Regions from separate parts of the Homo sapiens genome. Here all the other regions are reported to be linked to region 5. The links are microRNA targets in miRTarBase. Many come from high-throughput screens and were not tested one by one. Region 5 holds a microRNA gene; each other region holds the end of a gene's coding sequence.

Evidence for each region. The annotated mature microRNA hsa-miR-29c-3p reads UAGCACCAUUUGAAAUCGGUUA and lies in region 5 at 2,265-2,286, shown strand. An mRNA with a match to its seed (bases 2 to 7 or 8) in the 3' UTR can be bound and repressed. Matches are read on the target gene's strand: a 7mer-m8 pairs with bases 2 to 8, a 7mer-A1 pairs with bases 2 to 7 and ends in A, and an 8mer does both.
Region 1: the mRNA of CBX2 is a reported target of hsa-miR-29c-3p. Seed matches in the 3' UTR shown: 7mer-m8 at 3,026-3,032.
Region 2: miRTarBase lists GAS2L3 as a target of hsa-miR-29c-3p. Seed matches in the 3' UTR shown: 7mer-m8 at 3,240-3,246.
Region 3: miRTarBase lists GOLGA7 as a target of hsa-miR-29c-3p. The part of its 3' UTR that is shown has no 7-base or 8-base seed match.
Region 4: miRTarBase lists GLDN as a target of hsa-miR-29c-3p. Seed matches in the 3' UTR shown: 7mer-A1 at 703-709.
Region 6: the mRNA of RNF19A is a reported target of hsa-miR-29c-3p. Seed matches in the 3' UTR shown: 8mer at 1,786-1,793.

The regions. Positions count from the first base shown.
Region 1 is chr17:79,784,432-79,788,517 of GRCh38, forward strand. It overlaps CBX2 (chromobox 2), which reads left to right. Exons shown (of 5, transcript NM_005189.3): 5 at 1-3,552. The coding sequence ends at 611. Among named protein-coding and RNA genes, the nearest start is that of CBX2, 8.3 kb to the left of the region's middle.
Region 2 is chr12:100,624,433-100,628,523 of GRCh38, reverse strand. It overlaps GAS2L3 (growth arrest specific 2 like 3), which reads right to left. Exons shown (of 10, transcript NM_174942.3): 10 at 236-4,091. The coding sequence ends at 3,634. Among named protein-coding and RNA genes, the nearest start is that of GAS2L3, 53 kb to the right of the region's middle.
Region 3 is chr8:41,506,428-41,510,518 of GRCh38, reverse strand. It overlaps GOLGA7 (golgin A7), which reads right to left. Exons shown (of 5, transcript NM_001002296.2): 4 at 3,398-3,460; 5 at 1-935. The coding sequence ends at 3,413. Among named protein-coding and RNA genes, the nearest start is that of GOLGA7, 18 kb to the right of the region's middle.
Region 4 is chr15:51,404,264-51,408,354 of GRCh38, reverse strand. GLDN (gliomedin) reads right to left here. Exons shown (of 10, transcript NM_181789.4): 10 at 355-4,078. The coding sequence ends at 3,601. Among named protein-coding and RNA genes, the nearest start is that of GLDN, 65 kb to the right of the region's middle.
Region 5 is chr1:207,800,060-207,804,150 of GRCh38, reverse strand. It overlaps MIR29C (microRNA 29c), which reads left to right and starts at 2,212; the gene lies at 2,212-2,299. It overlaps MIR29B2CHG (MIR29B2 and MIR29C host gene), which reads left to right. Exons shown (of 6, transcript NR_135299.1): 6 at 1,489-2,633. MIR29B2 (microRNA 29b-2) reads left to right here and starts at 1,628; the gene lies at 1,628-1,708.
Region 6 is chr8:100,254,983-100,259,073 of GRCh38, reverse strand. It overlaps RNF19A (ring finger protein 19A, RBR E3 ubiquitin protein ligase), which reads left to right. Exons shown (of 10, transcript NM_183419.4): 10 at 1-2,007. The coding sequence ends at 518. Among named protein-coding and RNA genes, the nearest start is that of RNF19A, 53 kb to the left of the region's middle. RefSeq lists an enhancer at 343-442.

The sequences.
Region 1 (4,086 bases), not on the chromosome of region 5:
CCCATGGTGCCAGCAGGGTGCCTGCTGGGTGCCCAGGCCCCCAGCCAGCACCCACCCAGGAGCTGAGCCTCCAGGTCTTGGACTTGCAGAGTGTCAAGAATGGCATGCCCGGGGTGGGTCTCCTTGCCCGCCACGCCACCGCCACCAAGGGTGTCCCGGCCACCAACCCAGCCCCTGGGAAGGGCACTGGGAGTGGCCTCATTGGGGCCAGCGGGGCCACCATGCCCACCGACACAAGCAAAAGTGAGAAGCTGGCTTCCAGAGCAGTGGCGCCACCCACCCCTGCCAGCAAGAGGGACTGTGTCAAGGGCAGTGCTACCCCCAGTGGGCAGGAGAGCCGCACAGCCCCCGGAGAAGCCCGCAAGGCGGCCACACTGCCAGAGATGAGCGCAGGTGAGGAGAGTAGCAGCTCGGACTCCGACCCCGACTCCGCCTCGCCGCCCAGCACTGGACAGAACCCGTCAGTGTCCGTTCAGACCAGCCAGGACTGGAAGCCCACCCGCAGCCTCATCGAGCACGTATTTGTCACCGACGTCACTGCCAACCTCATCACCGTCACAGTGAAGGAGTCTCCCACCAGCGTGGGCTTCTTCAACCTGAGGCATTACTGAAGCCCCGGCGCCACCAGCTGCGCGGTCTTACTCCCCTTCCCTGCCTATGGTGTCGCTTGGCTAAGTGACTCCCAGCCCAAGCCCCCTCAAGAGTCTGGGTCGGGGGAGGAGGAGTGGGTGGCCTCCTTGATGGGCAGGCTTGGAAGGGACTTCTCCCGCACCCCACTCTGTCCCAGGACATAGGGCAGGGGGCCTCACTGCCTTGTTGGTCTCCACCTTGTTCCTACCTCTGCAGGCCTCTTTGCTCTCCCCTCTTGCCTCAGGAAACCCGGTGGCACCTGTGGCTCCAGGTGACTGTCTTGAACAGAGCGGGCTTCTTCATGGCTGCGTTGTTGCTGAGTTTGAACTGCTCCTCCCTGGCCTGCGTGACTGAATCACAGCTTTGGTCCCTGTCTTGCAGGGGCTGAGGTGTCAGGAGGGGACTTCTGGCCCACCTTGCCTTCAGCCCTGGAGTGGGCAGAGAGTATTGTGGGGAGGCATGGCCAGTGGGACTAGTGTTCCCTCCATCTGGCCACAGCTTTTGGGAGATGGGGTGGGCAGGGGTGGTCCTGGCTGGCATTGCCTGAGCCGGCAGTGATGAAGTGGGGAGCTTGCCCTTGACAGGTGGGGGCTGGCTGGGGCCTTAATGTGAAAAGACAGTGGCAGGCAGCTGGAGTAGAGCGAGCCCAGCAGCCCTAAAAGGCTGCCTTCATGGCCATCTAGCCCCAGTTCAGGGCAGCATCCATAGCCCACAAGCCAGCGTGGGTGGGGCGGGGGTGGTCCCACAGCTGGGTTCCACCTGAAGAGCCTCCGTGCCTCGGAGCAGGAGAGGCAGGCTATGGCTGCCACCCTCCCTCCTGCCTGTGTCCCAGTGAGAACTGACCTGAGTCCCCTTCCAAACCCAGACCCACCTCCTGCCCCAGGCCCACTGAAGCATGTTCCATTTCTAAAAAGCCCAGAGTTCAGTGTGTCCCAAGGAAAACCCAAAGTGGAGGTGCTCAGGTCCAGGGGAGTCCAGTGGGCAGGACCCTTGGCAGGCAAGCCCCTCCCTTCACTCCCAGGACCTACCTTCTGCTAGTAAAGGACTGGCTTCATTCTAATTATGGCCCACAGACTGCCCCGGAGACCTGGAGGACAGCAGTGCTGGCACTTGGGTGTCCATGGGCCCGTCTGCCGGCTCTGCCTGTGCTGCAAGTGTTGGCCGTGGGTCCAGCCAACAACTCCCTACGTCCTGTGTGGGGCCCTGCCCAAGTGGATGAGGCATTCCTTGAGGAGTATCATTTTCCCTGACAATCCCCATCACCTTTAGGGGTTCCCTGCTTGGCTCCTTTCCAGCTGAAAAACTAGACCTGTGCCATTGGGGAAGCTGGACAAAGTCTAGGGGGCCCGCCTGGTAGAGGGTCCCGGGAAGCTGGATCTGTCAGCCTCGGCCCTGAGGCCCCTGTTAACTCAAGACTGTGAGCTGCCTCTAGGTGGTCACGTCTGGGAGCTAGCTTGTATGGCTTCTGACCAGTATCAGGATTTCTGTTCTGAGAGCAGCGTGGGCAGCAAGGCAGGGCAGCCCAGAGGTGGCAGCGGCAGGCAATCTGGTCACTAGGTCTTTGTGATGCCAAAAATAAAAGAGGGTGGGGTGGGTGCTTTCTGTTCCTCTGATTGGATGGAGTCCGCCAGCAGGCATGGGGCTACATTCCAGTGCCTGACTATAGGGAGGCACTCCTGATTCCATGGAGCAGCCCGGACTTTGAGAATGGGCTCTGGTTTGCGGGGGGCAGGCGTACCAGACTGCAAGACCCCCCAGTACCTCACCGTGCCAAATAGGAAGAGGTGGCCTTGGTGTAGCCAAATGGATCTTTTTAACAGTGTGCCTTTGGGGAGGGACCCATGTCCATGGCTTCGTTGAGGGCCATCCATATGCCAGCTGGGGGCCAGCCCACAGTGGCCATATTGGCTGCAGCAGGAATGGTGCCCACCTCGGCGAATTGAAGGGCTAAGAGTCCCAGATAGCTAGGCCAGAGCTGGAAGCAGACAGTAAGGGGAAGAGCTGCTCCCACAGGAGAGGGAGAGATTCCAGCTCACTGCGCAGCCTGGGAGGAGGCGTGGATCCTGGCACGCTGAGCCTCAGGCACCAGCCTCCCTGTGCTCGACAGCAAAGTCTTGACTCCTTCCTGCTGAGCACTGTGCTACCTTCACTGCTCCAAAGCCAGACTAACAGCTCTCCAAGCCCTTGGGGTGACTCGGCTTCCAGGAGCTGTTGGAGAAATGAGGATGTCTGTCCCTGTCTGCCTGGGCAGGCCAGATTCCTCCCCAGCAGCCGGGTCTCTCCAGACCCTGATTCGGTGCCTTTCTGTTTACCAGCTACTTCAATCCCAAAGTTTGAATCTGCAGATACCTTACTCCCAGCCACTTTGCCTTCTTACTGTGTTGTGTGTTTTTCCTGGTGCTTCAAGAGCGTGTGCAGGGCAAGTGCCGTCACTGGGAACTGCACCAGATGCTCAGACTTGGTTGTCTTATGTTTACCAATAAATAAAAGTAGACTTTTTCTATTTTTATTTGCTGCTATTTGTGTGTGTGTTTGTGTTTGTGTAGCTAGGTATCTGGCACTTCTGACGATGCATTGTTGCTTTTTTCCCGAAGGTCCCGCAGGAACTGTGGCAATGGTGTGTGTGTGAAATGGTGTGTTAACCGCGTTTTGTTTGCTCCTGTATTGAATAGGAAGCAGTGGCCAGTCTGTCTTCCTTAGAGATGTTAGCATATTTTTATATGTATATATTTTGTACCAAAAAAGAGTGTTCCTTGTTTTGGTTACACTCGAAATTCTGACCTAGCTGGAGAGGGCTCTGGGCCGAGAGCTTTCACTAAGGGGAGACTTCAGGGGAGGATCAAGCTTTGAACCAAAGCCAATCACTGGCTTGATTTGTGTTTTTTAATTAAAAAAAAAATCATTCATGTATGCCACTTCTAATTGCTTTCAACTATGGCTGTTTGCTTTCTTAAAAGAGAACAAAAGTAGATATGTTATTGCCCTAGGAAAGGATCTCTGTTGAAACAGGACAGCAGCCTAGGGCCCACATTTAATTAGGATCAACCAGTTTAAGGAAATGCTTCCCCCAAAAAGCCCCTGATGGTGTGGGGAAGGGGAATGGTGAGTTGGGAACAGGTAGTGCCTACATGACCAGATTTTACTCAAGTGCATCTCATGATTCTGTGGGTTTTCTAGCATTTTTGGAAAACTAGCATAGGTTGCAGGGTTTTTTCTTCTTTTAGACTGATGTTAATTTATTTTGCAGGGGAAGGACAGCAAATGGCGTCAGAAGATTTTTGTCCTTTTGTTATCTCTTAGTATATCAATAAATTTTTAAAAAAAAAATTTGGCCTGATGTACATCATGAGTGATCCCTGGAAACACAGTAGACTCTGCTCTTTTCCTTTCTTGAGGCAAAATAATTCGTCTGGACATAGGCCAAATACTTGGGGCACAGAAAAATCAAAGACTGGG
Region 2 (4,091 bases), not on the chromosome of region 5:
GGTCTTTCTGGAAAAACATCCAGCATATACAGCAACTTGAGGAACAAATACTGTTGATTAATGACAAGGCCTTATAATCTCCTGGGTGCAGTGAAATAAATTCCACAAATATAAAGAAAGCATTTTAAACAGCACTCTTCTCAAATTATGAATTCTTCCTATATGCAATTTCCAACATGAATTAAGTGATCAGACTGTATTCAGAATACACCAAAAAAGCAAACTGAGACCTTGGTATATATGTTTAAATTTTAATACTCAAGAAAACAAACCTAAGTTAAAATTGGATACAAATACTGCTGGCATAAGAAAATATACACAAATTTGGATTCAAATGGGGTTATTATGTGAACCTGGATGTAAGACTACATCCTAACAACCTGTTGTTGAAGCCTTTTAATAAAGTAACAGATTTTAAATCAGATAGATATAAAAAGACTGAAGAAAAACAGTAACTTTTCCTTAAGTTCTCTTATCCATAAAGAATGACAAACTCCATATGGACAGTAAAGTTAGAGGTCATCCAATTTACCAAGGCATTTTGAACACATAAACCTTAAATACCTACTTTAAGCCCAAACAAGGTAAAAATAATCGGCATTTCATTGTGCTCCGAAGTTTAATTTTACATATCATGTTAACAAATTATAGAAAATAAAATAAAAGCATTTTCCATTTTTTTGAAAGTACACATCATTACTTCTCCCAGGTACTTCAGTAATTTAAGCTTAATACTCGTTTTATTAAACATTAAACACAAAAAAGAATTTACAAAATCTTGCACTGTTATTAAGAAGAGATGGAAAGTTCTCCCAACTTCAGCAATGTTAAGAGCTGTTTTTAAATTGTGAAAATGAATAGAAACACTAGCTCTTTAGGAGAATTTCAAAATACATCTGAAGAAACTAATTGTCTTTCGGATATTGTTTATTCAAACAAAACTTTTCGCTGGGTGTGATGGCTCATGCCTGTAATCCCAGCGCTTTGGGAGGCTGAGGCAGGTGGATCACCTGAGGTCAGGAGTTTGAGATCAGCCTGGCCGACATGGTGAAACCCCCATCTCTACTGAAAATACAAAAAAATTAGCTGGGCCTGGTGGTGGATGCCTGTAATCCCAACCACTCAGGAGGCTGAGGCAGCAGAATCACTTGAACCCAGGAGGCAGAGGTTGCAATGAGCTGAGATTGTGCCACTGCACTCCAGTCTGGGCAACAAGAGTGAAACTCCGTCTCAAAAAAGGAAAAAAACAAAACAAAACAAAACAACATTAAAAAAACACTTTTATTTTGGAAGGGTAAGCTATATATAAATAAAAATTCATTCAACATGAATGTAATTGGAGAAATTCCCTACTGCTGAAAAATAGTAATGTATAAACTGACTTCCAATTATTCAAATAAACCTTTTTCTTTTCTTTTTCTTTTTTTTTTTTTTTGAGACAGAGTCTCACTCTGTTGCCCAGGCTGGAGTGCAGTGGCGCAATCTTGGCTCACTGCAACCTCTGCCTCCCGGGTTCAAGCGATCCTCCTGCCTCAGCCTCCTGAGTAGCTGAGATTATAGGCATGTGCCACCATGCCCGGCTAATTTTGTATTTTTAGTAGAGAAGAGGTTTCACCATGTTGGTCAGGCTGATTTCGAACTCCTGACTTCGTGATCTGCCCAACTTGGCTTCCCAAAATGCTGGGATTGCCTGGCCTCAAATAAACAATTCTTTGGCTAATTCTGGAATTTGTGTCAGATGCCTGTGGGATACTTTTATTCCTGATCACATTTAACACAAAACTTAGTGTTTATATACTGTAAACAACATAAATTACATATTGTAAAATCTACTAGGATTCATAAATTGCCTACAATTCCATTTACTTTTTGCTTTCTTTTAAGTTCTAAAAGTTACTGATAAAGAAGTGTTACTTGGTTTTATAAGGGAATACTTGATGATAAAATTCTTCCTGTCTGAAAAGATGCACTAAATATTTCTGATCACTAAAAAGTAAAGCTTCTATCACCTCTTGAACATTGACTTCACTTTCCAAAGATGTATATATCATCTCTCTCAATGCCCAAGTCAATAGTCGAGTTAAACCAAGTATTTGGTGACTGTCTCTTTAAAGAAGAGAAGCATCACTTCTTCCAAAAACTAGCTTGCACACATCTTTGATTTTATCTGTACTCTTCAGGCAAAAGGTCATTTATCTTCATAGAAAGTTTTCTTGCTTTGTAATCTATAGAACACTAGTCGCCAGCTTAAAATGCTTATTCTATGATTGTACATTTGTGTAAACTATTATTTTTTTCTTCAGAAAACACATTTTAGTTTAAAACAGAGAAACACAAACCTGAATACTGAATAACCTAAGATAATTGGCAATACTGTGAAGTTTTAAAAGCACTCTTAAAACTTCTCAAAGTTCATTAATAATTTTTAAAGTCACCATCCCTTAAAAATAAATTATTTACAAGTATCACCTTAGGTTGATGGAGTTTATGCAGTCATTACATGATCAGGATATGCTTGAGAGACTGTGCCTACAGTGCAGAAAACCTTGAACATATCCTGTCTACTTGCCATTGGAAAACTGAAGGCAGCATAACTTTATTAAAGAAAAGTAACCTAATTGGAAGAAATTAATTAAAATTGGTATTGTGCTATCTAGAGAAAAATAATTTCATGATAGAATTTTTACATAGCATAACTCTAAAATTATTTTAACATCATCTTAATTTTAAAGTTGTTAAAACATAATTCTGATGTTTCACATTATTTTAATGTAAAATGTCAGGTCTGCACTCACAGGAAATTACATTATAAAAAATTATTTTTAATATGCTAAAAGCTACTAAATCAGCTTCCCCTGTCACATTGCACAACATGTGAAACATAAGGTGTCTACGTTTTTATAGATAATATAAAAAATTGTTTACAAAATTTGTTTATATTTCAGTAAGTTAATTTGTTGGATTTTTTTTAACCAAAAATATTGGTGACAAAATATTACCAATGTAAATATAAGCCACATGAAACAATCAGTTCCTTCCAATTTGGAAAGCTTAAAAAAATAAATAATAAGAATTCTACCTAACACAGAATAATGCCAAGCTAGTCAGCAGCAGCCATGACTTAGCACTGTTGGATCAGGCAATCCTGATCAGAAAATTAAATTAGGTGCCTTTTGTAGGACAAGTGCCAAACTGTTGCTTTTTTTTTTTTAACCAAAATGCAATTAACTAATAGTAAGAGCACCACCGTTGATATTAGCAGGTATATGAACTCCATATTTAATACATATTCAAAAATAGAGCAACTATTGTTAAAATTCTTGTAGTGTTAAATAACTTTTACATTTCCTGCAAAAGGCAGATGTTAACAAAGATGCTATAGACTGAAAATCATATACATGTCTATTATTAATAAAAACCTTGCAGTGATTTTACAACTGTTTGCTTCAGAAGGGCTCTTTCCAGTGAATTCAGATATGTGAATTCTGATGAACCCTTTCCTCATCCCAGCCTCCATCCTCACTATCCTTAGTGTCTGCACCTATTTAGACAGACACAAATAGGAGAAACTTTTAAGATGTGAAGCTAACACATTCATTCTTCCTTTTCTCTTTTTTTATAATGAGTATGTATTTATTTTCTAGGTTTCTTACTTCCAGTCATGACAAAATAATGGTCATCATCTTCCTTTTTCTTTGCAGTAGGTTTTTTATCTCCACTATCTGCATCCTTAACAGATGAGGGTGGTTTCCTGATTGAAGCTGGGGTTTTGCCACTTCTGGGAGGCCCTTTAGTTGAATGCTGGCTCTTAGCGACAGTCTGTGCTGACTTCGGTGCAGTTTGTGTTTTGGTAGAAGACTGGGGTAGGCTCACGATGGACAGTGGGGTACGGCCAGGAGACTTCAAGGAGCTGGGTCCTGTCTTCTGAAATGCACTTTTATTCTGAGGCTGCTTTTTGGTAGCTGAAACTATATTCTTATCTTTTGATTTCTGTGTGGCTTTTACAGGAGAAACTGAGGACACAGAAACTGGCTGATTTAAATTCAAGGCCGATTTAAGTTTCTGTGCTGGGACTGGCTTTGCTTGTGGGG
Region 3 (4,091 bases), not on the chromosome of region 5:
GGTCATAAGGTTTGCCTTAGGGATAGTTAAAAATTAGTAATATACAGTATTATTCCTATCAAATTTTTTTCTCATAAGTTATATTTATAACAAAACTATAATTAAAATATTTTTTATACCTGCTTATTCCATATCCAGGGACACAGCGGGAACATTTATGTGTCTGATGGTTTGGCATCCACTTTATTGTGCTTACTGATTTTTGTGATGAACAAGCAGCACGTATCATATCTTTCCAACATTCAAGGTAATGGAACAATGACATAAAATTCTCCAAAGAAATAACTGGAAATTGCATTAAATACTGCTTTAATTAGGCATAATTGCTATAATAAAACAAATAACATTATACATTTTTTTTTCAATAAGCTTCAGTTTGAGGAACTGAATAGTAGAAACAGATCTTAAGATTTGAGTCATGGTAAAACCAGTAATTCTTTGAAATCTGGGAGGTGCAAAACGACAGCCACAGCCAACCCTCACCAAAATCCTGGAGAAAAACATTTTATTAATTTAGGGGAACAAGATAGAACACTGGTGAAGATACGGCTTGTTGAGGTCTAAAGCCACCTGAGAAGCTGGCCCAAGGAATGAAGAGAACCAATGGTATGTACTGGTGGCAGATAACAAGCTTTGCACTGGGCTGACCAACTGTGTTTTATTAAATGGCTTTGAATAAAAAAAAGTGAAGTGCTTCATTGTGTTTTCTCAGAAACTAATCAAAAGATTACAGAGTCCTACACAATTTGGAGACACAAAGTGGATGCTGAGCGACTAGAGGTCACTCCAGGTGTGGAATTTTAGAAAGTGAGTCCTTGGAGTAAATGGCACCGTGGCTCTGGCAGCAGATAGAAAGGAATGATGCTCTGGAGAGGAGGTAGGGACACTCTGCGGTCGGCCAGTGGATACATGAGGGGCCCGGCTGGAAGTGGGATCTGTAATTAGAGGGAGAAGTAAAGGTTTGATAGAGATCCTGAAAATAACTTGTAAAACCATTTTTCTTCCATCAACTGATATCAGCTTATAACATGTGGTCTATGTTCTACTAACCTAGAATTTTATCTACTAAAATATCTTGGTACCATTTGTCTAAATGAGTCTACAGCTCAATAGTCTACAAATCTAAGTCCTATATATTCAGATCTCTGACCAAGCACATCACCATGGAGCCACGCTGCCTTGACTGCTGTCTACTAGCTGTTTGTCCTTGGGCCAGCAACTTAAGTTCTCTCTGCCTCGGCTTCCTCATCTGAAAAACAGGGATAACAATATCTACCTCATAGGGTTGTTGTGATGATTAAAATTAAGCATTTAGAATAGTGCTGGCACAGATGTGCCAACAAACATTAGCTGTTTTTATTATCACTAGTTGTGATGGAATAATCATGTATTCCATTTTATATAAAGATGGCAATCTTAATCCAGAGAGAAAACACCAGTGCATGTAACAATAACAATGTGATAATAAAGATATATGCAAGATATTATAAAAATTAAGCTTAAAGAAAGGCATTTTTGTTTAAAGCTCCTTTTAAAAATAAAGGCCATCCTCATGTTTGTGTAGTCTTTTGTTAAGTCACTAATTCCCACATATTGCTTCAAATTGCAGACACCTTGCAGACTGAAGAAAAATGGAAGAATTGAATAAATTATGCTTAGAGTTTCCTCCCCTTCTCTAAGATCTCAGCTCACATTGCATCCTGGACCTTGGGAACACCCAAATCCCAAAACGAAATTGTGTTGAACAAAAATATCTGCATTCATGAAAGAGGGTATCCAGAAGTTATTAATGTAAATCTTTCCCATTTCAAAATTCTAGTTATTTGAATATTGATAGATTAGCCTCTGGTGTGTAATTGCTCAAACCTCACACATCAGAAAAACACATGATTACACAATAGCTGCAAAATGAGTCATGACAAATGGGCTGTGCCAAGTCATCGCAGCTGCAACTGATATACAAACCATGGCATGGAACAAAAGCCACACAGAAGGTTGCTGGTTGTTTGAGAAGTATCAGTTTGAAAATTGTACATGAGAAAGCGTATGGACAAGTAACACTAAGTATTCCAAAACAAAGCCTTTTTAAGGAAATACAACATATGGCAGAGGATAGATATCATGATTTAGATCTTTGGCTTTCAGGAATTCAGGTGACACATTCACTAGTGCTAAAGAAGGCAGCTCTGGAATGTTGCATGGCTTACAGGATTGAATAAATCATACAGGAGCAGACAAAATGTATTCTTTTTTAAAGTATTGAAAAAGAAGAGAAGGGGATAAACCTCTAGAATTATCTGATGAACTCTTCCCTTTCTCCATGTTCCTGCTGCTGCAAGTACTGAGAGGAAGTACGGTGTAAAAGACAGGGGTTTTATGATCAATCAGACTTGGGTTCATATCCCAATACTCGTTAACTGTGTGACTGTGAGAACATCATTTAATCTATTTGTATCCAAGTTTGCTCATCTATAAAATGGGGAAATACTTTGTAGGGTTCTTGTGAGATTCAGAAGTACCATTTGTACAATACCAGGCACATAGTACGTGCCCTCAAAATGGTAGCTGTTATTGATGTTGCCCTAGGAAGACATGTGTCTGCTTTGGTACATTCTGTGTCTGTGCTGTCTATTAATTAGTGACAGATACCTATAAGCACAGTCAACTAGAAAAGCGCAGCAGCAGAACACTTTCTGTAGGAAGACCACGTAACTAAAATTGGCAGAAATAGTGAAGTGCTACTTCCTGTCACTTAGAAGGCTATGCTAAAGTACTTAGGGCTTCAACGTGACTCTGCCTAGAGATTCTTAGTAGTATTAATTTGTTTCTTACTCATTAAAGGGCAGCATCTGGATATTTAAGGACATTAATACTTTAAACAAAGGAATGAAATTTATGTTTCTACTCAGTAGGTAAGGTTTCTTCCACAGGGGTCTGAAGCCACTTAAACATAATAAATGAAATATTCAGAATCTCCCCACTCCCCTCTGAAATGTTCCTTTGCTTATTAAAGCCATTTGTCATATAGGTAGACATCTCTGAACTCATTCTTATATGCAAAACCCAAGTATTTATATGTCTAGGATAGTTTTGAAATATTAAAACAAGCCAAGTAACTGCCATCCCCCATTCCCCCACCAAAGTAACAACAAAACCAGTCTGAACACAATACAGCAGGAAAAAAAATCAGAATTAAATTCTCTATCACCAAATAGAACTTGGGCCGAATACACATTTTAAATATCAAGCTAATACAGTGACTAGCTTAAGCTAACACAGCAAATATACTGTTATTTAACTGCGTGATTTAATGATTTATTTACCATGCGGGGAAGAATATTCATGCATCCTCTAAACTTGCAAAAGCTGCATACAAGCCATATCATTTCATATTTACCTTTAATTCTTCGGTTTATCTTCCACTGCTCATGCCTCTGTCTTCATAAATGGTAATTTCAATCTAAACAGCATGGCTGTTAAGAAAACACACTACAGGACACAACACACAAAGGGGGACTTGGCAAGGTGGAGGGTGTGATCTGCAGACTTTGCTTTCAGTTTGCTTTATTTTTCAATTATTAAACATTTTTCCTACTTAAGTTTGCTTTCTCCAATTTGCTGAAAATTTTAAGAAATGTAATTATAGTAGTCCACATGTAGTTCCTTCCCAAACACTGATAACTTATGTTTTGAAAACAAAACAAATAAATTCTGAAAACGATGCTTTATTTGTTGAACTAGGGAGTTCTTAACTGAGAATCCATGGAGGTAATGAATTCAGGGATTTAAAAATACCCTGAAATTATATGAAAACTTTTTTCTTGGGAAAGGGTTCATGACCCCTGAAAGTTTAAGAACTATTGTTGCAGAGTATAACAAAACTGCTGAAATTATTATCAGCTGGAAGGCCTGGGATTATGTGACCTAGGTTTTTAAAAAAATTTATTTACCCATTACTCCAGTTATCAAGCTAAATTAGTTTTTTGCAATTTTATTTACCAAATTCACTTAGTGATTTTCAAAGCTTACTGCCTCTAAAAATATGCACAGTATGTCAAAGGTAATGAAATTACACATCTGGCAGCTGTAAC
Region 4 (4,091 bases), not on the chromosome of region 5:
CAAATTCACATAAATCCAGTTTTAAATTTTTGTTCTTTCAATTTTTAGCCTCAAATATTATGTCCTCAATTGCCTTGCCCATGCTGATGAATTGGCAAAGCTTGATTGCATTTATGTCTACGTATAACCCAGTTCTAGTACTAGATTTCCATCGCTCATGTTTTCTTATAGAGAAGAGACAGTCCATATCAACAATTTTTCAGTACTGTATTCAGAAGGAGCTAGCAAATTGAGTTTCCACAGAGGAGCAACTAATATAATTCTACCACAATATTGTTTTGGATTTTTTCTTTTAAATGTTACGTATACATTAACAAGAGGTAAAAATAACAACACACTTGTTTCAACATGTGATTGTGCTCAGCAATGATTATTTTATTTGACTTGTTAAATTACAACCAAAAAGACATTCATCGTTATTCATTTGTTGTTCAGGATCTGTGCAGGTTGGAAATTATGGCTCTTAATGCTGTGAAACACAGGGCCACAGCATCTGGATGAAAACGCAAAGCCCTATCACTCATTTCTCCTTCACTTGCCATCAGATGATCATAGCCAAAACGTCCTCTGTGTGGTTGGAAGATGACACCTCACTCATCAAGAATTGTACTGTTTCATTTGACTTTTCACCTTGTGACTGTTAAGATGCCTAAGATCAGAACTCCTCATCTTAAAACTTCCACCCCAGAACTTTTTCTGTCATAGCACCTGTGCTTAACGATACTTGGAGACCAGAACCACCTACTTGGCTTCAGGAGGACACCTTATCAGCTGAAAGAAAATGCCTTGAAATAGAGTGTGGCCTAGCTTTGAGGTTGGGAGGGATGGTTTTGTTTACTTTCCAGTGGGAAGCTATCTACTTTAGATTAAAGAAGAATTAGAGAATTATCTGGTTTGATTCTGACATCAGAAGTGCAGATATTTGGAAAGTGTTTTAGAGCAACTTTGGTTATAAATGAGAGGGTAAACTCCTAAAACAGTATCTTGACTTAAAAACATTCAGTTGTATACTCTATTTTAGCAGTGAGCCCAAAACTTCTTTAAAAAATCAAGTAATGTTTACAAGAAAGAATAAAATCTTAATCCTTTTCACTTTTAAAGACAATCAGATAAGATTACCCACTGCGATTAAACACTGATCAAACTCAGTTGTCCTTACGTTAGCATTACTCTGTCATAGCAAAAAAAAAAGAAAAAAGAAAAAAAGTCCCGGTGTAAGCTTCTCCAGTGGTGAGCATGATCCCTTACTCACAAGTAAGGGAGCCCAGATAGCTCAGATATCAAGACTGAGGTTTCTGAAACATTTTTCTAAAAGGAATATGTGCTAATTAACAACCTCTTTTGGTTGCTACCTTATATACAATTAGTATTGTATGTACTATTATTATGAAACTATATTCCTAACCTGGTCTCCTGTATTCAGCAACAGCAACATATATATTTAAATACTTTAAAAGGACACCAGCACTTATTAGACATATTGATCTTGAACATGAGACTCTTTGTTAGAGAACGTGAATCTGAAAAGAGTATTTTTAAAAGCTAAGGTGACATGGTACAACCAATCTAATGAAAAGTAGGTGAAGTTTCAAATAGCCATCATATTGAGAACACAACAAACAAGTCATTGACAGCTGCCTGGGGACTTTCAGGGGAGCAGGGAGATTTGAATATTTAAATCTGTATATCCCCTAAGTTTTATTTTCTTATATTTTATTTTTTAGAGATGGGATCTCTCTAGGCTGGTCCTGAGATCCTGGCCTCAAGTGATCCTCCCATCCCTGCCTCCAAAGTAGCTGGGATTGCAGTTATGTGCCACCATGCCCAGTTCAACCCTAAGTTTTAAAATACTGCTGTTAATAATATATTGAACTCAGGGCCATTGAGAATGAATTTGGTCCCAAAGAGAAAGTTTCAGAATACACACAAATTGGGACAAGTTGCTGAAAAATCTTTACATAAGATTTGCCCTGGTTCCCCTTCCTGGCTGCAGAGCCCCAGGAACTTTTCCAGCTTCCTCTCTATTCGCAGTGGCCCTTCCCGGGGCCGCAGCGCTGGGCTGAAAGATGTTTAAAGAAGTGAGTTGGCAGAAAATATGCATATTTAAGAGCATTTAGGAGCAAGTTCAACTGGATTCTCTCCTGGCATCCAAGGGGACCAGATCACATCCTTTAAAACTATGTTAGAGAAAGAACTGTCCCCTAACCAGCCTTTGTGGAGGGCCACTTCATCTTACGCCGTTATCAGCCTTCCCCTCTACTCAAAACGCAAGTCACATCCTATGCGGCTTCTTAGTTTAGAACAAAACAAAACAGGCTCTGGTTCTGATTTTTTCAAGAATCAGGCTCACTTTATATTCTTTATCAGGAGTCAGCAATCTTTTTCCATAAAGGGGTAGCTGGTCAATATTTTAGGCACTGTGGGGCCATATGCTCTTTGTTGCAATGACTCGACTCTGCTGTTGCAGAGCAAAAGCAATGTCAGGCCGTACTGCATAAACAAATGAGTGTGGCTGTGCTCAGTAAAACCTTATTTAAAAAAACAGGCAATGGACTGGCTCTGGCCCAGTTCTACATAATAGCCACAAATGGAGCCTCTCTTCTGAACACTGCAAAGTGCTTCCCATGGTTCCAGCCAGATTAACGTCTACTTACACAGCATTTAGTACTTTGATAGTGGATCCACAGGAGAAGCATAAGAAGTCAGAGTGATCTGAGGATTCAGTGTTCATGATCCACAGCTACAAATCAACATGATCAGAAACTGGGGGGAACCTGGAAGATCATGATTCTGTTTTATTAAGAAACCTGGGCCAGGCACACATGCCTGTAATCCAGCATTTTGGGAGGCCAAGGCAGGAGGATCACTTGAGCCCCAGGAGTTCAAGACCAGCCTGGGAAACATAGCAAGACTCTCTCTCTATTTAAAATAAGAAAAGAAAAAAAATAGCTTATTGAAAAAAAAAAAAAAAAAAAAACCTGAACATGTAGCTGTCCCTGGCTTTTGCTAATCTCAGAGCTGCCCAATCAGCAGCTGAGGGTAATGGTTATTCTGTGGTGGCAGGTGCAGATGCAAAGAAAAGCAATAAATTATGGATAATGTGATACTTTAGATGTCTTAAAGAGTCAATGCATTTTTTCAAAGAACAAGATATAAGTCAGCACTGAGGGATTCACTACTCAAGCCACTGGACTTATCAACTCAAAGGTAAATTTGGTCAGCATGTGGCTAAAAAAGCTAAACGACAGAAGCAGATACATAAAAGTTGTGAGAAGAGCAGCCACCAAGAATCACCAAATTACCTACAGGTACAGAAAATCTCCCCAATCATCTTAGCCAATTCAGATTACCAATGGGGAAACTAAGGCCCAAGGAGAAAGAGGTAACTTGCAGAGCCAGCTGTGGGGAGATCACCAAATCTCAGCCATTTCAACTTCCAATCTGTTGCTATTTCACTAAGCGGGGCTCACTGACCATATAAACACTTTTGAGGTTATTTTCTAAATATCTGGCTGACGTTAAAAAAACAAGTTTCCTGTTGGGGGAGAACTGGTCCCAGAAAACCCCTGAAATTTGCTGAAGGGAGCCGAATGCAGCACATCACTGATTTAAGGTAGTTGACAAAAACTGCACAGGATAAAGCATTAAATGGCCATCTTCCCATGAATATAAATGCTGATCTCTCATGTTGTATGCTAACATGGCAAGAACAGACTGGGAAGTTCTTAAATCAAAGTTTGCATTGATCTGTTTCCCTCCTAACAAATCAAAGGCAAATGTGACCCTCATATCTTTGGTGTCTGTGACATAGAGGATTCCTCGGGCAATGAAGGCGTTGCCAGCCTTGGATTTAGGGTACGTGGTATTGACGTGTTGCACCACTGAGAATGTCCTCTCATCCAGTTGTGCTACAAGAATGCTCGAGCCGTCCACACTTGACGCATAGATAATCCAAAGGCCCTTTTCATCTACAGCTAGATTGAAGTAAGTTTTGGAATTTGCAAAAAGGTATTTTCGATCAAAATACAAGGCATTTTCAAGCTTCAGAGTTTGGGATGTTTCCTGGCCAAATTCAAATCTGAAATATGCAA
Region 5 (4,091 bases):
AATGAAAAGCAGAAAAGTGAGAATCTCATCAAATCCCCTCATTTGACAGGATTTGGACTCCCAGTAGTAACTGTCCTTAAACACTCACTCCTGACCTTACAACCCTGGCTGTTACCTGGTTAACAAGCCCCAGGTGTTGGCTACAGGTGTCATCACTGAGAGCCCTTGTGTGCAGATCTGCCCCAGCTCTCCCACCTGTGACTGAGGCTAGCAAGTCCCCCGTGGGCTGTAGAGCCTAGCGCTGGTGTCAGAATCGCTTGTTGCAGGTTCATCTTCAGTGTCTTTCCCACAGCCACATGCTGGGGAAAGACGGCAAAGGCGCTAGAGGAGCAGGAGAACAAAGCAAGCTGCCCCAGACCACCCGGCTTTCGCAGAACCCAGATGATGCTCCTGTCTCCCCCTAAGTATAACGTGTTATGTAGTCAGTATGATCCCATTCAGTGCAGAAGTATCGCCTAGGAATTTCCTGCCCCACCCACCCTGTTTTGTTCTTAATGAAGTTCAAGAACAAAATGAGATGATAGTCAAGTTATGGAGCAGGCTGCAGTGGATACAAGGGCAGAAACACAGTCTTTGGAGTTAGACCTGGGATCTGCATTGATTGGTTGTGTGACTGCAGACAAGTTATTTAGCCTCATTAAGGATGAATTTCTTCGCAAAAATTGGAATAATACCTGCCCCATACGACTGTTGTGAGAATTAAACACCGCAACTTTTGATGTTCAAATTCTATTTCTTCTCCTTCTAGCAACACATACTGTTAGTGCCAGGAACCATAAAAATTATAAGGCTGTATCTAGAGGCCTGAAAGGAAGCTAAAATATACAGTGTCTACTCTGTCTCTTTTCTCTTGGTTATGGTATCAGAGGAAATACACATATTTTCTTAGCTTCAAACCACCAAAAAAGATGATGCAGTAAGGAGATGGGAAATCTAATTTGGAATACAGTGTGCAAATCTTATTTTCAAGCAGACTTTGAAAATAAAACTCAATTCTTACGTTAGAGGATTATCTGCTTAATACAATTATAGGGTACCAGTTTTTGAAGTCACATCGGGGTTAAATAAGATTGCAGGTTCATGGGGTCATATTTGAATGTTCTGATACTTACATATGGGGTGGGAAGGAGGAATGCATGCTTTTCTCAAGTTAAGACACATAAAAGAGTTGTCCTGGCCCAGGTGAGACTCGCCTTTGTGTAGCAGCTGGAGCTTCATTCCACAGGCAGATAGGGTGCTTGTGTCCTGATGAAGTAAGAGAATATATCTGGAAACACTTTGTGTACTGTGAAATACTATACAAATGCAGGGCAGTACAAATGTAAATATTAATGTATTTTAGTAATAATTTTAGCTTTTATTTCATCATATATAATAATTTGTAGTGACTGGTGTGAAGTTAAATAGAATTAACCTAGAATTAATGAGTTTTGTATTGCTCTCATCTATTTGAAGCATCAGCTGTGCCTTTCATGTTGCCTTGTGCAGCCCTGTGTAACCTCCTCTGTGCCTTTCCCATGGAGCACTGTGTCATATCACAAGTAGAACTACAAGAAGATATTTCTCCTCAGGGCAGAGGCTGGGTCTTCCGATTGAATCTCCCTTCTTTCTTCATTGAGATCCTCTTCTTCTGGAAGCTGGTTTCACATGGTGGCTTAGATTTTTCCATCTTTGTATCTAGCACCATTTGAAATCAGTGTTTTAGGAGTAAGAATTGCAGCACAGCCAAGGGTGGACTGCAGAGGAACTGCTGCTCATGGAACTGGCTCCTCTCCTCTTGCCACTTGAGTCTGTTCGAGAAGTCCAGGGAAGAACTTGAAGAGCAAAATACACTCTTGAGTTTGTTGGGTTTTGGGAGAGGTGACAGTAGAGAAGGGGGTTGTGTTTAAAATAAACACAGTGGCTTGAGCAGGGGCAGAGGTTGTGATGCTATTTCTGTTGACTCCTAGCAGCCATCACCAGCATGAATGTGTTCGTAGGGCCTTTGAGTGTGGCGATTGTCATATTCTGTTGGATAACAATGTATTGGGTGTCGATTGTCATGGGGCAGGGGAGAGGGCAGTACACCTGGAGGACCATTTTGTCCACATCGACACCATCAGTCTGCTCTTAGAGGATGCCCTGGAGTATTCGGCGTTGATTGCGGGGCACCCGAAATCAGACTTGCCACCTGGACTGTCGAGGTGCAGACCCTGGGAGCACCACTGGCCCATCTCTTACACAGGCTGACCGATTTCTCCTGGTGTTCAGAGTCTGTTTTTGTCTAGCACCATTTGAAATCGGTTATGATGTAGGGGGAAAAGCAGCAGCCTCGAAGCCTCATGCCAACTCTGGGCAGCAGCAGCCTGTGGTTTCCTGGAAGATGGATGGGCAGAGAATAGGGAAGGAAGATCATGCTTTTCCCTACTAACTTCTGTAACTGCATGTATGATACATTATTGCAGAGGTAAGAGATAGTTTAATGGATTTTTAAAAACAAATTACTATAATTTATCTGATGTTCTCTAGTTGCATTTTGCTGAAATGTAGTGCTGTTCTAAATTCTGTAAATTGATTGCTGTTGAATTATCTTTCTGTTGAGAAGAGTCTATTCATGCATCCTGACCTTAATAAATACTATGTTCAGTTTATCATGTCTGTGTTTTTCATCTATTATTTCCCATTCATAATTCTGTGATGATAAGAAGTGGGTCCTGAAAAATTAATTGGCTGTGCAGATCTTGCCTACTTCATAAAGAATTTGAAGTAGGTTACAGCCAGCCAGACATTAAAAATGAAGCCCATTAAGAGAAGAATGAAATTCTATGAGCCAAGAAATAAAATGAGAGAAAAGATTAGGGAAGAGAAGAAATGTTGAAGATCAAGGCTGAGGGATGCTCCCTACTGAATGGGAAAACTCCTTAGTTCCACATGGGCTGTAGACACAGCCCTTCTGCCAGCAACTGTTCCTGCAAGGAACTGGTGCTCAACTAAACATACTGTCACATGGTTCCTTGAAGGGGCACAGCACTGATTTCACTTGCATTATAAAAGATTGAGTGGTGCTTTTGACTATTAGTTTATGTCAACACTTCAAAACAAGATGAGCCAGTTTTTTTTTGTTTTTTTTTTTTGTTTGTTTGTTTGTTTTAGACGGAGTCTCACCCTGTCACCCAGGCTGGAGTGCAATGGCACTGTCCCCGCTCACTGCAACCTCCGCCTCCCGGGTTCAAGCAATTCTGCCTCAGCCTTCCGAGTAGCTGGGATTACAGGCGTGGCACCTCCACGCCCAGCTAATTTCTGTATTTTGTAGTAGAGACGGGGTTTCATCATGTTGGCCAGGCTTGTCTCGAACTGCTGACCCCGTGATCCACCCACCTCAGCCTCCCAAAGTGCTGGGATTACAGGCGTGAACCACCTCGCCTGGCCCAGTGAGCCAGTTTTGTAAAGCTATTCAGAGATTAGCCAGATTTGATTTGATAGGGGATCAAGCTTGTAGGATCTTCAGGAAGGCGGGCTGTGGCCCCTTGATCAGGCTTTTTGCACAGGAGGTGCATGACTATGAACTACCCTCAGTAGAACTCTTTTAAGCCAGTGGCTTGCAATAAATGATGGCAAATCAGCCACCTAGGAAGCCATTTCTAAGCCCAACCCCCTGCCACAGTCTTCCTCTAGATGGCTGCCCTGCCCAGTGGGCTGAGAGTGGGGGGCGGAAGTAGCATTTGCTGGGAAGACTTGCCAGTACATATGTTGCACCCCCTCACTGCAGCTGCAGTGCTATTTCAGGCTGTTGATGGAAGAACCCATGTTCTAATCCCCAGGATGTGGTGGGAAGACCCTAAGTGGTGGTGTTAGTTAAGACCCTAAGTTATATTGTTTTGTTCACTTCCCACTGAGATAGGCTACAATAGTATTAAATACCTATAGGTCAGACATTTTTGGGGTCTGTTGTACTACCTACCAATTAAACAGTTTTTGATCCGCCCACCACGCTCAAAGCTCCAGCCTAGGTGTTGCAAATACAGACGACAGATTTTTGCTCTCAGGAGGCCCTGATTCCAGTCCTCAAACGAGTAAGTGTGAAATTGAGTGCAGCATTAAAGCACAAAAAC
Region 6 (4,091 bases), not on the chromosome of region 5:
CAACAGCAGGGAAAAAATCAAAAAGTGGTAAACTGAGGAAAAAGGGTAACATGAAGATAAATGAGACGAGAGAGGACATGGATGCACAGTTGTTAGAACAACAAAGCACGAACTCAAGTGAATTTGAGGCTCCATCCCTCAGTGACAGTATGCCTTCTGTAGCAGATTCTCACTCTAGTCATTTTTCTGAATTTAGTTGTTCTGACCTAGAAAGCATGAAAACTTCTTGTAGTCATGGTTCCAGTGATTATCACACCCGCTTTGCTACTGTTAACATTCTTCCTGAGGTAGAAAATGACCGTCTGGAAAATTCCCCACATCAGTGTAGCATTTCTGTGGTTACCCAAACTGCTTCCTGTTCAGAAGTTTCACAGTTGAATCATATTGCTGAAGAACATGGTAACAATGGAATAAAACCTAATGTTGATTTATATTTTGGCGATGCACTAAAAGAAACAAATAACAACCACTCACATCAGACAATGGAATTAAAAGTTGCAATTCAGACTGAAATTTAGGCCCATAAATGCTGCAGAATAATTACCACTGTACAACCGTGTTTGGAGCTGGTTGAACTACATGTGACTACTTAAGTTTCAGGTTACCAGCAAAAGCCGGGTTTCATTATCATAATGCAGATACATTTTCTGTGTTCAGCAAGGCATTGTGTGTCATGTGGATCTTAGTTACCAAACTATGAAGTGAAGGCTTTAAAAGTGCATTATTTTAAGGATAATAAATTTGAAGAGCAAAGCATGTTTTGTGTGTTTGCCACAAAACATTGCTTGAAGCACATACTTAGATAGAAATTGGTCTTAATTTATATAATCAATATAAAATACTAATGCAATTCTACAGCATTCAAATGAAGAAAACTTGAGGCTTTAGGGATAAGTGGTTAGTGATATTTTATTGAAACCACTAAAGAGATAAGTTTAAAAGAACTGCATAGGTTACTCTCAGTATATGATACTCTGTAACATTTCTATTTATATCGGCATAAATTTCATTTTTTTTCTTCATATGCAATGTGGTTATATAAAGCTTAATGCAGCTCATTTGCTACCATTTGGATACTTAGACACTTTGAGCAAGATTGTGGCAGTTTTTGCACAACTTTGAAATAGAAATACCTGGTACTCTATCTTGTTTATTGTTGATGCCATCTTAGAGGAAAAAATGTAAAGGTAAGTAATTAAGCATATGACAGCAACAAATAAGATACATAAAACTACAAAATAAAGTCCCATTAGGTTATAAGTATTACAAAAAATCCACCTTTCTCTAAGGGGAAGTTTGTACCCCATTGATTCTTGGTGCCTTTGGGATCGACTGGGTTTTAATGGCCTAGTTATTTGAGGATTTTGCTGTGTTGTTTTCCATGTCTTCTCTGGTCACCTTGGATTATATATAAAAATACAGGAAATAGATAAACATGAATGTGATTAATAATGCTGAAAAAGTATTAGCCTACCAAAGACACACTCAGGCTTTAGTGAATAACTTTACATAACCTCAGTTTTTAACACATGCATATCTTCTCCAACCATGAAATCAAAGCACGGTGCAGAACTTGTACCAAGTACAAAAGGTCCATGTATGATTAGCATTATTTTCTTTTGCTTTTGTTTATGGACAATGTTCAGCTGACATAAGCAGAAGTTGGCCAAAATACTGCCTGTACTGTTAATTTCCTGTATAATTCACTTAAATAAAAGCAGGTTAACCTCAATGATAGCAGTTAAAATGTTCTATCTTATGTATTTCTTTTAAGTATTACCATTATGGTGCTACTGAGCGTTTTCTTTTGGTAAAAAGAAAAATGCCATGGGCTGCAGTCTTCTTCCATCACTTTTCCCTACCAGGTCCATTAATATGCTTATAACACTAGTGCCAGTTATTTTATTTGATAATGCTTATGGTATTTGTATATTTGTTTGCATTCCAATTTTGTTTAATAATGAGTGTGTAAACTGCATACGTTAAATAAATGTAAATACTAATGTACTGCTGCCTTCTGGTGTGTACACAAGTGTTTTTTTTTAATAAGAATGAGAATATTCATTGGCCATGTGGTAGTATTCATAAATATTGCAAGCCATTGTGATTATTCTGCCTTCTGGTCTCAGCTCAAGGGGAAGCATTTGCTGAACTTTTCAACAGTGTTAGAAACTACCCTTTTTTCCTGTCTAATTCCTGCCTTTCCACCAGAAAAAAAGATACTGTATACATCAACATAATTTTTTTGAGTAAATTGGTTGAATTTAACTTGAGTAAATATATGTATCATTAAATTGTGAAGAGAAATCAGTATTATAAATCCTCAGAAAAGTGGAAAGATCAGCTAACTTGGGAAAAGGGGAAAAAAGTAAAAAGATCTTAAAAGACTATTTTAAGAGATTCTATTCTAGCAACATTAGATTATGAAATGAGCCATTTAAATTCAAGCTAATTGTAATCAGATGCTTTCTATTCTTGTAGCTTCTGTAAAATGCATAGATGGTTTTTCTGTTTCCCTGGTATATAGTTAATGCTTCATGAAAATAATCTTTTTTTTTTTTTGAGATGGAGTCTCACTTTGTAGCCCAAGCCTCGAGTGCAGTGGTGCGATCTCAGCTCACTGCAACCTCCGCCTCCTGGGCTCAAGCAGTTCTCGTGCCTCAGCCTCCCAAGTAGCTGGGATTACAGGCAAACATCACCACGCCCGGCTAATTTTTTTGTGTGTTTTAGTAGAGACGAGGTTTCGCCATGTTGCCCAGGGTGGTCACAAACTCCTGAGCTCAAGTGATCCACCCACCTCGGCCTCCCAAAGTCCTGGGATTACTGGCGTGAACCACCATGCTCGGCCAAAATAATCTTATGAATATGTTGACTGCCTTGTTGACATTTCTTTAAAAGGCTAAAGATGAAATGGAAAGCTAAATGATCTTCAGAGGAATACAGCAAAAATAGTGCCCTATAGGAGGCTGGTGCATTCATTCACCCTACACCTACTTCTGGTGATACTCCCAACCAGTACCACTTCAGTCTCACCTTAAAACTAGCTTCAAAAATTCCTTGTCTCCTGGACCTTTCAACTAGCTTCAGAAATTCCTTGTCTCCTGTATCCTTCAAAGTTGGATTAATTTAGGACCAAGCCAGTTTTCCCTGGAACTCAACTCTGGGCTAGCCTTGAACAAGAGATACCTCCAGGGTATTCAAAATAAACCTTAACTCACTGAAATCTTGTTAAAACTCTTTGTACTTTAAAGCCTGTTGGAAAAATCATCTGGTAATGAGAGAAAAGAAATACAAAGATTATAATAGTATATCCTACTGTTGATTATGTAGACCACCAATTTAACTGGTAGATTCACTTCATTGTACAAATTCCCAGCTTCAGAGCACTTAATTAGTTAGCTTTTTATATTAAATGCACATAATCCACCACTCCTAACTTATTTTTCCTGGAAATTGTGTTAATTTGTAAACATGTAAGACTTTCCCTAGCCTGTTATTTAGGTAAACATATAGACAAATCACCAAAGGATAAAGTATGTGTTGAAAACTATCGGAGCTATTAATTGCTACATGACATGAGCAAAAGAAACTCCTGCTCCATAGATTGTTTTGCCTTTCCATTCACAGTCATCACGCTTCTTACAGATTCTAGTCTGTACTTGGATCTAAGGAAAAAAATTCTTTTCTCAAGGCTGCATTTCATATGGTTCCTTTTAATGGATTTGTTGTTTCATTTATTTCCTTCACTAGAGCATGAGATATCATTGCTTAACAGCCAGTGTTTACATACTGGTTGATTTTTGAATGCCAAAAATAGTATTCTAAACTTGGGGAGAGTTATGTTATTTAGGGTGGCTATTATTTAATAGCTGGATATGAAAAAGTTTGCAGTTTTAAAATTTAGTTCAGATTGGATCACTGTACATCATATGCTAGTCAGAATTTTTGTGACTTCTACCAATTTATTCGTTCAACAAAGTAGATGCTGGAAATACAGCATAGTACCAAATAAACAAACACCCTGGCTTCAGAGGGCTTGTATTAGAATTTGGAGGATACAAAAATAATAAACATATGCATGTAGCTTAAAA